3 linked regions of the Homo sapiens genome follow. The protein of the gene in region 3 purifies or fractionates together with the protein of the main gene of each other region. This does not show direct contact. Each region holds a gene or a part of one and is shown on either strand. Other genes may lie near its edges.

The links.
Region 1: the proteins of METTL21C (region 3) and TUBGCP2 purify together in Homo sapiens (affinity purification with mass spectrometry, with the first as the bait; one study listed by BioGRID). This does not show direct contact.
Region 2: the proteins of METTL21C (region 3) and CCDC88A purify together in Homo sapiens (affinity purification with mass spectrometry, with the first as the bait; one study listed by BioGRID). This does not show direct contact.

Annotation. Positions count from the first base shown.
Region 1 is NC_000010.11:133,302,234-133,305,884, reverse strand, and holds part of TUBGCP2 (gamma-tubulin complex component 2), read left to right. Parts: intron 1-2,904; 5' UTR 2,905-2,943; coding exon 2,944-3,093; intron 3,094-3,651. UniProt on the Homo sapiens protein: Component of the gamma-tubulin ring complex (gTuRC) which mediates microtubule nucleation.
Region 2 is NC_000002.12:55,409,836-55,413,486, reverse strand, and holds part of CCDC88A (girdin), read left to right. Parts: intron 1-3,651. UniProt on the Homo sapiens protein: Bifunctional modulator of guanine nucleotide-binding proteins (G proteins). Acts as a non-receptor guanine nucleotide exchange factor which binds to and activates guanine nucleotide-binding protein G(i) alpha subunits.
Region 3 is NC_000013.11:102,688,622-102,692,171, forward strand, and holds part of METTL21C (protein-lysine methyltransferase METTL21C), read right to left. Parts: intron 2,344-3,550; coding exon 2,192-2,343; intron 1-2,191. UniProt on the Homo sapiens protein: Protein-lysine N-methyltransferase using S-adenosyl-L-methionine as methyl donor. Mono-di and trimethylates 'Lys-943' of AARS1.

The sequences.
Region 1 (3,651 bases), on a different chromosome or scaffold from region 3:
CATGGGGCTCCATGGCGCGTGCCCTGCTGGCCTTGTGCTTGAACTGTAGTTACCGTGAGCACCTCCTGGGTCAAAAGCATGTGTGTGAGCAACTCAGCACCATGCCTTCTTATCGCTCTCCTTCCATTTTCGGAGATACCCTGCCTGTGACCAGTATTTGATGTTCATCTACAGATAAACTGTCTTCCATCACACAGGATTAGAATCTCGGTGTCGAGTCCCGTGCTAATAATCGTTAGTGAATTAGCATATTGTGGGAGTATGTGCTGAGTCTTCTGTACTCTATTGTAGGGACCAGCCCCACAGGGTCGGTGGGTTTTTCTCCTCGTGTGCGGAGATGAGAGATTGTAAAAATAAAGACGCAAGACAAAGAGATAAAAGAAAAGACAGCGGGCCCGGGGAACCACTACCACCAAGACGCAGAGACCGGTAGTGGCCCCGAATGCCTGGCTGCGCTGTTATTTATTGGATACAAAGCAAAAGGGGCAGGGTAAAGAGTGTGAGTCATCTCCAATGATTGATAAGGTCATGTGTGTCATGTGTCCACCAGACATGGGGCCCTTCCCTGTTACGTAGCCGAGGCGGAGAGAGAGAGGACAGCTTATGTCATTATTTCTTCTATGTTCTTTTCAGAAAGATCAAAGACTTTAATACTTTCACTAATTTTGCTACTGCTATCTAGAGGGCGGAGCCAGGTGTACGGGATGGAACATGAGAGCAGACCAGGAGTGTGACCGCTGAAGCACAGCATCACAGGGAGACAGTCAGGCCTCCGGATAACTGCGGGCGGGCCTGACTGATGTCAGGCCCTCCACAAGAGTTGGAGGCGTAGAGTCTTCTCTAAACTCTCCGGGGAAAGGGAGACTCCCTTTCCCGGTCTGCTAAGTAGCGGGTGTTTTTCCTTGACACTGACACTACCGCTAGACCAAGGTCCGCTTGGCAAGGGGCATCTTCCCAGACGCTGGCATCACCGCTAGACCAAGGAGCCCTCTGGTGGCCCTGTCCGGGCATGACAGAAGGCTCACATTCTTGTCTTCTGGTCACTTCTCACTATGTCCCCTCAGCTCCTATCTCTGTATGGCCTGGTTTTTCCTAGGTTATGATTGTAGAGCAAGGATTATTATAATATTGGAATAAAGAGTAATTGCTACAAACTGATGATTAATGATATTCATATATAATCATATCTATGATCTAGATCTAGCATAACTCTTGTTGTTTTATATATTTTGTTACACTGGAACAGCTCGTGCCCTCGGTCTCTTGCCTCGGCACCTGGGTGGCTTGCCGCCCACACTCGATGTTTTGTTGAGCTCATCCTTGTCTCCCTGAAGCTGTCAGCAGAGTGGTTGTTTACCTTTTTTGGGTCATAGAGCCTTTGAGAATTTGTTGAAGGGTCATCTCCTCAGAAAATAAAAAGTTATTTTGCCCATAACTTTCAAGGGCTCATCTGTTACTGATTACTCATGGATACCGGCTTAAGAACCCTTGTGTAGATGAAATGTTTGTGAAGCATGTAAAGTTTGCTTATATTTGTTTTGTAATCTATAGCCAGTTGCCTTGCCTGTGTTTTTTGTTTTGTTTTGTTTTTTGTTGAGACAGGGTCTCCCTCTGTCGCCCAGGCTGGAGTGGCTCAAGCGATCCTCCCACCTCAGCCTCCCGAGTAGCTAAGACTACAGGCATATGCTACCATGCCCAGTTAATTTTTGTATTTTTTGTAGAGACAGAGTCTCACTGTGTTGCCCAGGCTGTCTTGACTCCTGGCCTCGAGTGACTCACCTGACTCAGCCTCCCAAAATGCTGGGATTCCAGGCGAGAGCCACTGCACACAGCCATGTGTTTGTCTTAATGGCCTTGTATCGGAACTCTTGGTGACAGAGGCTAATGAGCAGCCACTGGTGGGAGAGTAGGGGCGGCGCTCACCCTGCCCCCTGACCCAGGGGTGGGCTCACCCTACACCCTGACCCCACGCAGTGTTCTGCTGCCCACTTGGGTGTCTGTGACGCCTTCGATCTCATATGTGTTATATGTCTCCTGGTGAGCCCCTGGGGCAGCTGGAGCTGCAGTGGAACTTCACCTAGCTCAAACGTGTAGGGAACGTGTAGAAGTCCTACCAGAAGCGTCTCTGTCGGTAGCCACGCTTGGGCAAGAAAAGGAGATGTCACGGGTACCAGAGTGAAAAAGTAACGCAGAGCCGGCCAAGTGAATGGAGCTGCGGCTGAGCACCGCGGGCTCTGAGAACCAGTGTGGGCCTCTCCGGTAGAAGCTGGGATGTTACTGTGTGTGCCGGTAGCTGGCACAGTGTCAATGGCTTGGGCCTGCACAGAGCTCCCTGTGTAGACCCCACAGGCCTCACGTCTGGGACCAGAAAGCTCTGTCCCCAAGCCGAGGCGAGCAGCAGAGCATTCCCTGCTGGCCCAGACCCATGTGTGGAGGGAGGTGCAGGGGAAAGGGAACCTGGGTCTCAGGCCCCATTCATGCTGCCCACGGGGCTGGCTCCCGGAGCTGCGGAGGCCGCCTGGAAGCTGGAGGCAGGTGAATCCCAGGCCCACCCAGAGGACCCTCTGAGAGGCTGCTGGGGTGTCGGGGAGGGGCCCTAATCCCAGGCCCATGCAGAGGACCCTCTGAGAGGCTGCTGGAGTTCAGGGAGGGGCCCTAATCCCAGTCCCGTCCAGAGGACCCTCTGAGAGGCTGCTGGGGTGTTGGGCAGGGGCCCTAATCCCAGGCCCATGCAGAGGACCCTCTGAGAGGCTGCTGGGCTGTTGGGGGAGGGGCCCTAGGCCAGGCAGGCCAGGTGATAACTTGGTTTGTCAAAGCCTGACATTGGCCAGTCTTGAGTGTTTAAAAAAATGTTTTTTATTTCTACAGTTTGAATTTTATGAATAGCTGTCTTCTTACCTATAGGAGAACATATTGTGATGTTCGTGCCTCAGAGCTAAAACTATGAGTGAATTTCGGATTCACCATGACGTCAATGAACTGCTTAGCCTGCTGCGTGTCCACGGAGGAGATGGGGCTGAGGTCTACATTGACCTGCTTCAAAAGAACAGGACCCCGTACGTCACTACCACTGTCTCTGCTCACAGTGCCAAGGTGAGCACTGCCCTTGGTGTAGCGCTGTGCAGGGTGAGCACTGTTCCTGGGTCAGGGTGGTGCAGGGTGAGCCCACCCCTGGGTCAGGGTGCAGGGTGAGCGCCGTTCCTGGGTCAGGGTGGTACAGGGTGAGCACCATTCCTGGGTGAGGGTGCAGGGTGAGCCCACCCCTGGGTCAGGGTGCAGGATGAACACTGTTCCTGGATCAGGATGGTGCAGGGTGAACCCACCCCTCAGTCCATGTGCAGGATGAGCGTCGTCCCTGGGTCAGGGTGCATGATGAGCACCGCCCCTGGGTCAGGGTGCAGGGTGAGCGCCACCTCTGGTGCAGGGGGCAGGGTGAGCGCCACCTCTGGTGCAGGGTGCAGGGTGAGCGCCACCTCTGGTGCAGGGTGCAGGGTGAGCGCCACCTCTGGTGCAGGGCTGTGCGGGGTGCAGGGTGAGCGCCACCCCGGGGTCAGGATGGTGCAGGGTGAGCACTGCCCCTGGTGCAGGGCTGTGTACCGTGCAAGATGCAGGGTGAGTGCCCGTTCCTGGGTGGCCTCAATGGTACCGGCA
Region 2 (3,651 bases), on a different chromosome or scaffold from region 3:
CTAGCTGTGCTACTTATTGGTATGTGAGCCTAATATCTCCAAATTACAGTTCCTACATTTATAAGATGGGAGATAATGTTTCCCTTCCTGATGGGGAAGGATTATCTACTAAGGCAGGGACAGATAAGTCTATTTTCTGTTTTGTTGACCCACTATATCCCCAGTGCTGGTTGCTGTCATTATTATTATCCTGTGCTATGCTATATCTACCTACTTATGGCTCCTCAAGTAAATCATGATAGTTCACAGCTTAGTTTTTTTGTTTGTTTGTTTGTTTTTGAGACAGGATCTCACTCTGTCACCCAGGCTGGACTGCAGTGGCACAATCGCAACCCACTGCAACCTCAAACTCCTAGGCTGAAGCAATCCTCCCACCTCAGCTTCCCAAGCAGCTGGGACTGCAGGCATGTGCTACTGCACCTGGCTAATTTTTTAAAATTTTTTTTATAGAGACCGGGTCTCACTTTTTTGCCCAGGCTGGTCTTGAATTCCTGGGTTCAAGTGATCCTCCCACCTCAGCTTCCCAAAGTGGCTGGCATTACAGGCATGAGCCACTGCGCCTGGCCGACAGCTTAGTTTTGTATGATCTCTGTTAGTGTCACCTCTATATAGCTGTATGATCTTTAGTAAGTTACTTAATTTGTAAGTGGGATAAAAAGTCACAGGATTGTTATGAGAATCAAATAGAATAATGTATGTACAATGCTTAACATATAGAAAGTGTCCAATAAATGTTAGCTCTTTATTGTTTTATTTATATTATTATCATTAGAATTATTTTCTTCAAGACCAGCGGTCCCCAACCTTTTTGGCAGCAAGGACTGGTTTCATGGAAGACGATTTTTACATGGAGCAAGGCTGAGGGGAGATGGTTTCAGGATGAAACTGTTCTACCTCAGATCATCAGCCATTAGATTCTTATGAGGAGAGTGCAACCTAGATCCCTCGCATCTACAGTTCACAATAGGGTTTGTGGTCCTGTGAGAATCTAATGCTGTTGTTGATCTGACAGGAGGCAGAGCTCAGGCAGTAATGCTTGCCCGCCCACCACTGATCTGCTGTGTGGCTTTCCTAACAAGCCATGGACCCAATCCATGGCCCAGGGGTTAGAGACTCCTGCTCTAGACTATCCTTCCCCTTTTCTTTGACTAACCAATTCCTGCTCTTCCTTTAATACCTTGTGAAGTCCCCAGGCAGAGTTGTTTTCTTCCTTATGATTCGGAAGTACCTTCACCTGCGTAGCTATTGCTTTGCAGTATTACTGTTTAGGGGCTAGATGTTTTGTCTCACATATTACTAGCACCTAACCTAGTACTTAGCATGTATCACTAGCACCTAGCATAGAAGTTGGCATGTCGTAAGTTGTAAGTAAATGTTGAAGGAATAAGTGAAGATAGCTGCAATTTTATTAATTTTCAAAATTTTGAGAATACCTTCTAGTTTTAGTACTGTAGAATTTAGTTTATTTTTTAGTTTGTCTTCTGTTTCTCCTTTTTGTTTGTTCTCTCTCTTTCCCCGTATTTGTTTTAATTACCTTTATTGGATATTTTTCCCACCGATGTTATATCTCCTTTGAGGCAAGGTGATAGGAGCAAGATTTCATGGTCCATGGTTTTTTATAGTATTAGAATATACAGTGCTTTCAGTTTGGTTTCCAATAACTTTCCTGTCCAATATGTTGAGTTTTTTTTTTTTTTTTTTTTTTTTGAGACGGAGTCTTACTCTGTCGTCTAGGCTGGAGTACAGTGGCGTGATCTCGGCTCACTGCAACCTCCTTCTCCCAGGTTCAACCAATTCTCCTGTCTCAGCCTCCTGAGTAGTTGGGATTACAAGGTGCCCACCACCGTGCCTGGTGAAGTTTTGTGTTTTTAGTAGAGACGGGATTTCACCATTTTGGCCAGGCTGGTTTCGAACTCCTGACCTCAAGTGATCTGTCCACCTGAGCCTCCCAAAATCTCATGCTGGGATTACAGGCATGAGCCACCGTGCCTGGGCCATGTTGAGATTTTTTTGTCCACAGCTTTGTATTGGACTGTCTTCAAGAAAAGTCCATTGTGATTGCCTCATTCTCAATATGATTCATATGTAGTTAAACTACAGAAATGATGAGAACCTAGAGAAGAACAGGTGAACTAGTTGTTATACCTGAGAGTATTTTTAAATTTTTTAACTGAAAATTTTCTCTTAATATATATTATGGGAGACTAGTTCTCACAGGATAAATGGAAAGGAAGACCAGTTCTTTCAAAAGGACACCAGCTGACTTTCTTTTAGGATCCATGAAACAGTTTGATACCATTCTAGGCATTAAGTTTTCAATATTCAGAAATAGTATTTGAGATTATACTTGGTACTGGGACATCTGTATAATACTTAATTTATTAATTAGTAAACTGGCTGCTTTTGGAGAGTCAGAGTGGTGGGAGGGCAAAAACAAAAACATGGGCTTGAAAGTTTAAATCCTGAATCAATCATTTAATATTTAGCTAGTTATTGAAACTGGAAAATTACTTTAAATGTTCTCTTTATTCCTGATTCTATTTTTATGCCTTCTTAGATCTATTTTACTAGTTTAATAATTTTTTTTTTTTTTTGAGACAAGGCCTCTCTCTCTTGCCGAGACTGGAATGCAGTGGCGAGATCTTGGTTCACTGCAACCTCTGCCTCCTGGGCTCAAACGATCCTCTCACCTCAGCCTCCTGAGTAGCTAGGACTACTACCATGCCCAGCTAATTTTTCTTTTCTTTTTTTTGTTTTTTGTTTTTTGTAAAGGCAGAGTTTTGCTGTGTTGCCCATTCTGGTTCCAATCTCCTGGGTTCAAGCTATCCACCACCTCAGCCTCCCAAAGTGCAGAGATTAGAGGCGTGAGCCAGTGTGCCTGGCCTACTTTAATAATTAATAAAAATAGGTGGATAAAACCCATCAACTTCACTCTGAGTGAGAGGAGATCTGCCCCTAACATTTGTAAGATCCAGGATAAGCATCCATTTACCACAATAGGCCTAAATATTTAAAGCTTATAAACCAGGCCAACAAATCATTATCTATATTCTAGTCTTTTCTCTTGATAAATATACCTTCATAATGACTTGAAAGTTTCAAATTTAAAATCTGTGGAATTTAGAATTCATAAATTCACAGTTTTGCAGCAGAGTGTGGTTAAGCCCAACCTCCTCCCGTCATCTCTGGCTCTTTCTAGCACCACAAAGAGGTCTCCTGTACATGCTGTGAACACCTTGCATGCACGCACAAGGTCTAAGCTCTTGTACTCCCATCCCCAAACAAGTACTCCTTGGCCCAAGGGTGTACACAAGTGTAGCACAGTCTTTTCTAAGGACAGACCTAGGAAAGAGGCCTGTGTGGGCCTTCAAATTGAGTTAGAAGTGCTTGGGCAAGAAATTGCAAAGTTCTGGGCACCTGGAGTGTCATTTAAAAGTGGGGAGGTAGGCCAGACTTGGGGGCTCACACCTGTAATCCCAGCACTTTGGGAGGCTGAGGCGGGTGGATCACTTGAGGTCAGGAGTTCAAGATCAGCCTGGCCAATATGGTGAAACCCCGTCTCTAATAAAAATACAAAAATTAGCAGGGCATGTTGGCGGGCCCCTGTAATCCCAGCTACTCGGGAGGCTGAGGCAGGAGAATCACTTGAAG
Region 3 (3,550 bases):
GAAAGGAGTTCTTTGGTCCTTAAGGAGAGAAGAGAAGTATTTGCTGTGGGGGCTGGGAGGAGGGGGTCAATGTCAGGAAAAGAGTGTCACCTAGAGCCATTCAGAGGGCAGCTCTGAGGAACTTCCTGGAGATGGCTGCAGGGGTCCTTCCTGGTGCCCTGCCCTGTGAGGGGCTGGCCGCAGGGTGTCATGCGGAGACAAAGCTTTTCTCAGGGACAGCTGTGTCTTTTGACATTGCAAACATTCCCCCGCCAGCCCCTTGTCCTGTTAGCAAACTCTGAAGAGATCTTTTCACAGAGTTGCACCTGAAGTCGCACAGGAAAAGGGCGCCTTCCCACTCTAGATGCCCTTCTTGTGCAGCTTTCAGGAAGCAGGTTTCATGAGAGGCTAGTGTTTGGTGCATGAGTGATACCTTGTTCAGAATAAAACAGGGGGACAAATATTCTTTTTTCAATTTCTGATCTTTTTTTTAAAATTATTATTTTTAAAAGGGAGATGGGGTCTCACTATGTTGCCCAGGCTGGTCTCAAACTCCTGAGCTCAAGCGATCCTCTTGCCTCGGCTTCTGAAAGTGCTGGGATTACAGGCATAAGCCACATGCCCGGCCTCTGATCTCTTACTATACCACTTTCTCGCTACACCACTGCTGTCGTCTATTTGCTGAATGTGTTACAATAGGAAGCTGTGAGTAGTTTGGTGATTTTCAAACTCGTTTTTAAGGCAAAGAAAAGCCTTTAGTTGAAGGAAATTATATGCATAAGGTGTAAAAATAGAGCTCCCTGTTTGGGAGTGAGTGAAGGTCGACACCTAAGAGCCTGAAGCCCTTTGGCTACCCTTCTCCCCATCCTGTGCCATCGCCAGATGACCTGAGGGAGCCCCGTGGAACCACTAACCAGGAATACTCAATGTGGGCACCCTGGCCCAGCAGATAGGCATCACCCCGGAATGTGTAAGACCTCCTGAATCAGAATCCGCATTTTAACAAGACTGCAGATTGAGAACTTCTGATCTGGAGCCTTTCTAATCACTGACAACATCCGCAGTGGGAAAAGCAACCACACTGGCTCTGAGGGCCACTGTCTATCTTGGCTCTGCCCTGCACCCCAGTCGGGAGCTTTACCACGCCAGCAGACTGGCCTGCGTTCCCATTTCCTCAGCTGAAAGGTGGAAAGAATATTACATTAATGAGGACAGTTCATGTGAGCTTACGCTAGGACTTCATTTAATCTCACAATCTGAAATTAATTCTCACAATTCTGACAACCACGTCAGGAGCACTGTAGACATTACGACCACCCTAGGTTTTAAATATGGAAATGAAGGCAAACGGAGGTGAGGTGAACATTTGTGACTACCCAGCCCTGAAATGGCAGCTTTTCTGACTAAAAATCCAGAGGACTGCCCCCATTTCAGCGCCATCCTCTCAGGGCTGTGGCAGGGGTGACATGCCACAAAGTCATGCTTCCTAAACATCCCTACCGACACAGCCCCCATGGAAAAGAGATGAATGGCTGGCCGGCCGGGCGTGGTGGTTCACGCTTGTAATCCCAGCACTTTGGGAGGCCGAGGTGGGCAGATCACTTGAGGTCAGGAGTTCAAGACCAGCCTGGCCAATATGGTGAAACCCTATCTCTACTAAAAATACAAAAATTAGCCAGGCATGGTGGCGCGCACCTGTAGTCCCAGCTACTCGGGAGGCTGAGGCAGGAGAATTGCATGAACCCAGGAGGTGGAGGTTGCAGTGAGCCAAGATCGTGTCACTGCACTCCAGCCTGGGTAACAGAGTGAGACTCCATCTCAAAAGAAAAAAAAAAAAAAGAGAGAGATGAATGGCTGAGGGTCGATGGGCGTGGCTCGGAGATGCCCACTGCAAAATCTAAACTCTAAATCCCTGGGTTTATTCTTAACAATTTATACAAGTTTTGCATTCACTTCCTCATATAGCTGAGTTTATTTAATATAAAAATAATGTTTCGAGAAACAGAGCTTGAAGCAAAACCAGTGTTTCTGAAAGAAACACTGTTTTTGCTGATCCCAAGCACTCCACCAACACCCTCCAGGGGGCAAGCAACTGAACCTCAAATTGAGAAGCAGGATATGAAGGAACTTGACAAATTGTCCAAGGCAACTCTGAAGTACGGAATTGTTATCTCCAGAAATCCTGACATCACAAATATGACAGTTCTCTCACCCCTGGCCACACCACCGCTCCGTAACTCTCTATGGATTCCTGGATGACAATCTCCTTTCCTGCAAACCGATAATGCTCCTGAGTGTAGCTGGCGTAATCTGTAGGAACAAATTTCTGGAGGCTATGAAGAGATGGTTCTATCTTGTTGGATTCTGTGAAGCAGAAAAATAAAATGGAGTTCATGATTTGTTCAAATCCAGTGCAAAGACACACTTGGTATAATTGCTAAGATGGCATTAGATTGAATGACCTTTACATAAAGAGAAGGGATGATGCTATCAAGGAGAACGGCTGCAAATTGGCACAAAATTGAATTATATGGGGTGATGGGGACATGAAATTTGGATGTGACAGTTTTATCAGATGACAAAATGCCAAAGAATGCTCTGGGCCTTTTCTTTATTTAGGGGAGGACAGAAGATGTGTGGATCGGTCCCCACCCTAAATTTTGCTGATGGAAAAATGGCGAACTTACCAGCAAAATTGCACGAATGAGCTGTCTGGATACAGAGGAACTAGGTAAACACAAACCTGCCTTTTTTTTTTTTTCTTTTTGAGACAGAGTCTCACTCTGTTGCCCAGGCTAGAGTGCAGTGGTGTAATCTCAGCTCACCGCAACCTCTGCTTCCCGGGTTCAAGTGATTCTCCTGCCTCAGCCTCCTGAGTAACTGGGATTACAGGCGTGCGCCACCACGCCCAGCTAATTTTTGTATTTTTAGTAGACACGGGGTTTCACCATGTTGGTCAGGCTGGTCTCAAACTCCTGACCTCGTGATCCACTCGTCCTGGCCTCCCAAAGTGCTGGGATTACAGGCGTGAGCCACCACGCCCCGCCAGACCTGCCTATTTTTAGGTCTTGAAGTGAAGTAACATTCCCACGTGTTGGCTGGAGCATGTTCCTTCAATCTTTCCTACAATTGCTGTTCAAAAGGTAGAGGCCCAGCCAGCCCCACAGCCCTGGGGGAGGATGTCAGCTGAGCTCTGGCTATTAAGTTACTATTGCTTTAAATACTCCTTTAAACCCATGACCCATCTAGCAGCTCTCAGATGGCATATAAAATGAGAGGAAAAGAGCACCTGATCGGGCTGACATCAAGAGATCACAAGTGTTTGCAGGTTTTCCAGAGTGTTTAGGAATAAAAGAGCAGTGAGTCAAAGTGTGTGGAAGAAGGAGCAGGAGCAGAGGAAAAGGTGTTGGTCCCAGCGGGTGGGAAAGAATTAACAGTGCGGAGAGTAGGGGGGAGGAAGGTCAGTTTTGTTTGCACGAAACCTGCCTTTGTGGCCTGGGATATGACTGTAAAATGTTTAACCGGGGGTCAAATATGGGCTTTGGACAAAGGTAGAAGGGGGCAGCCGGTG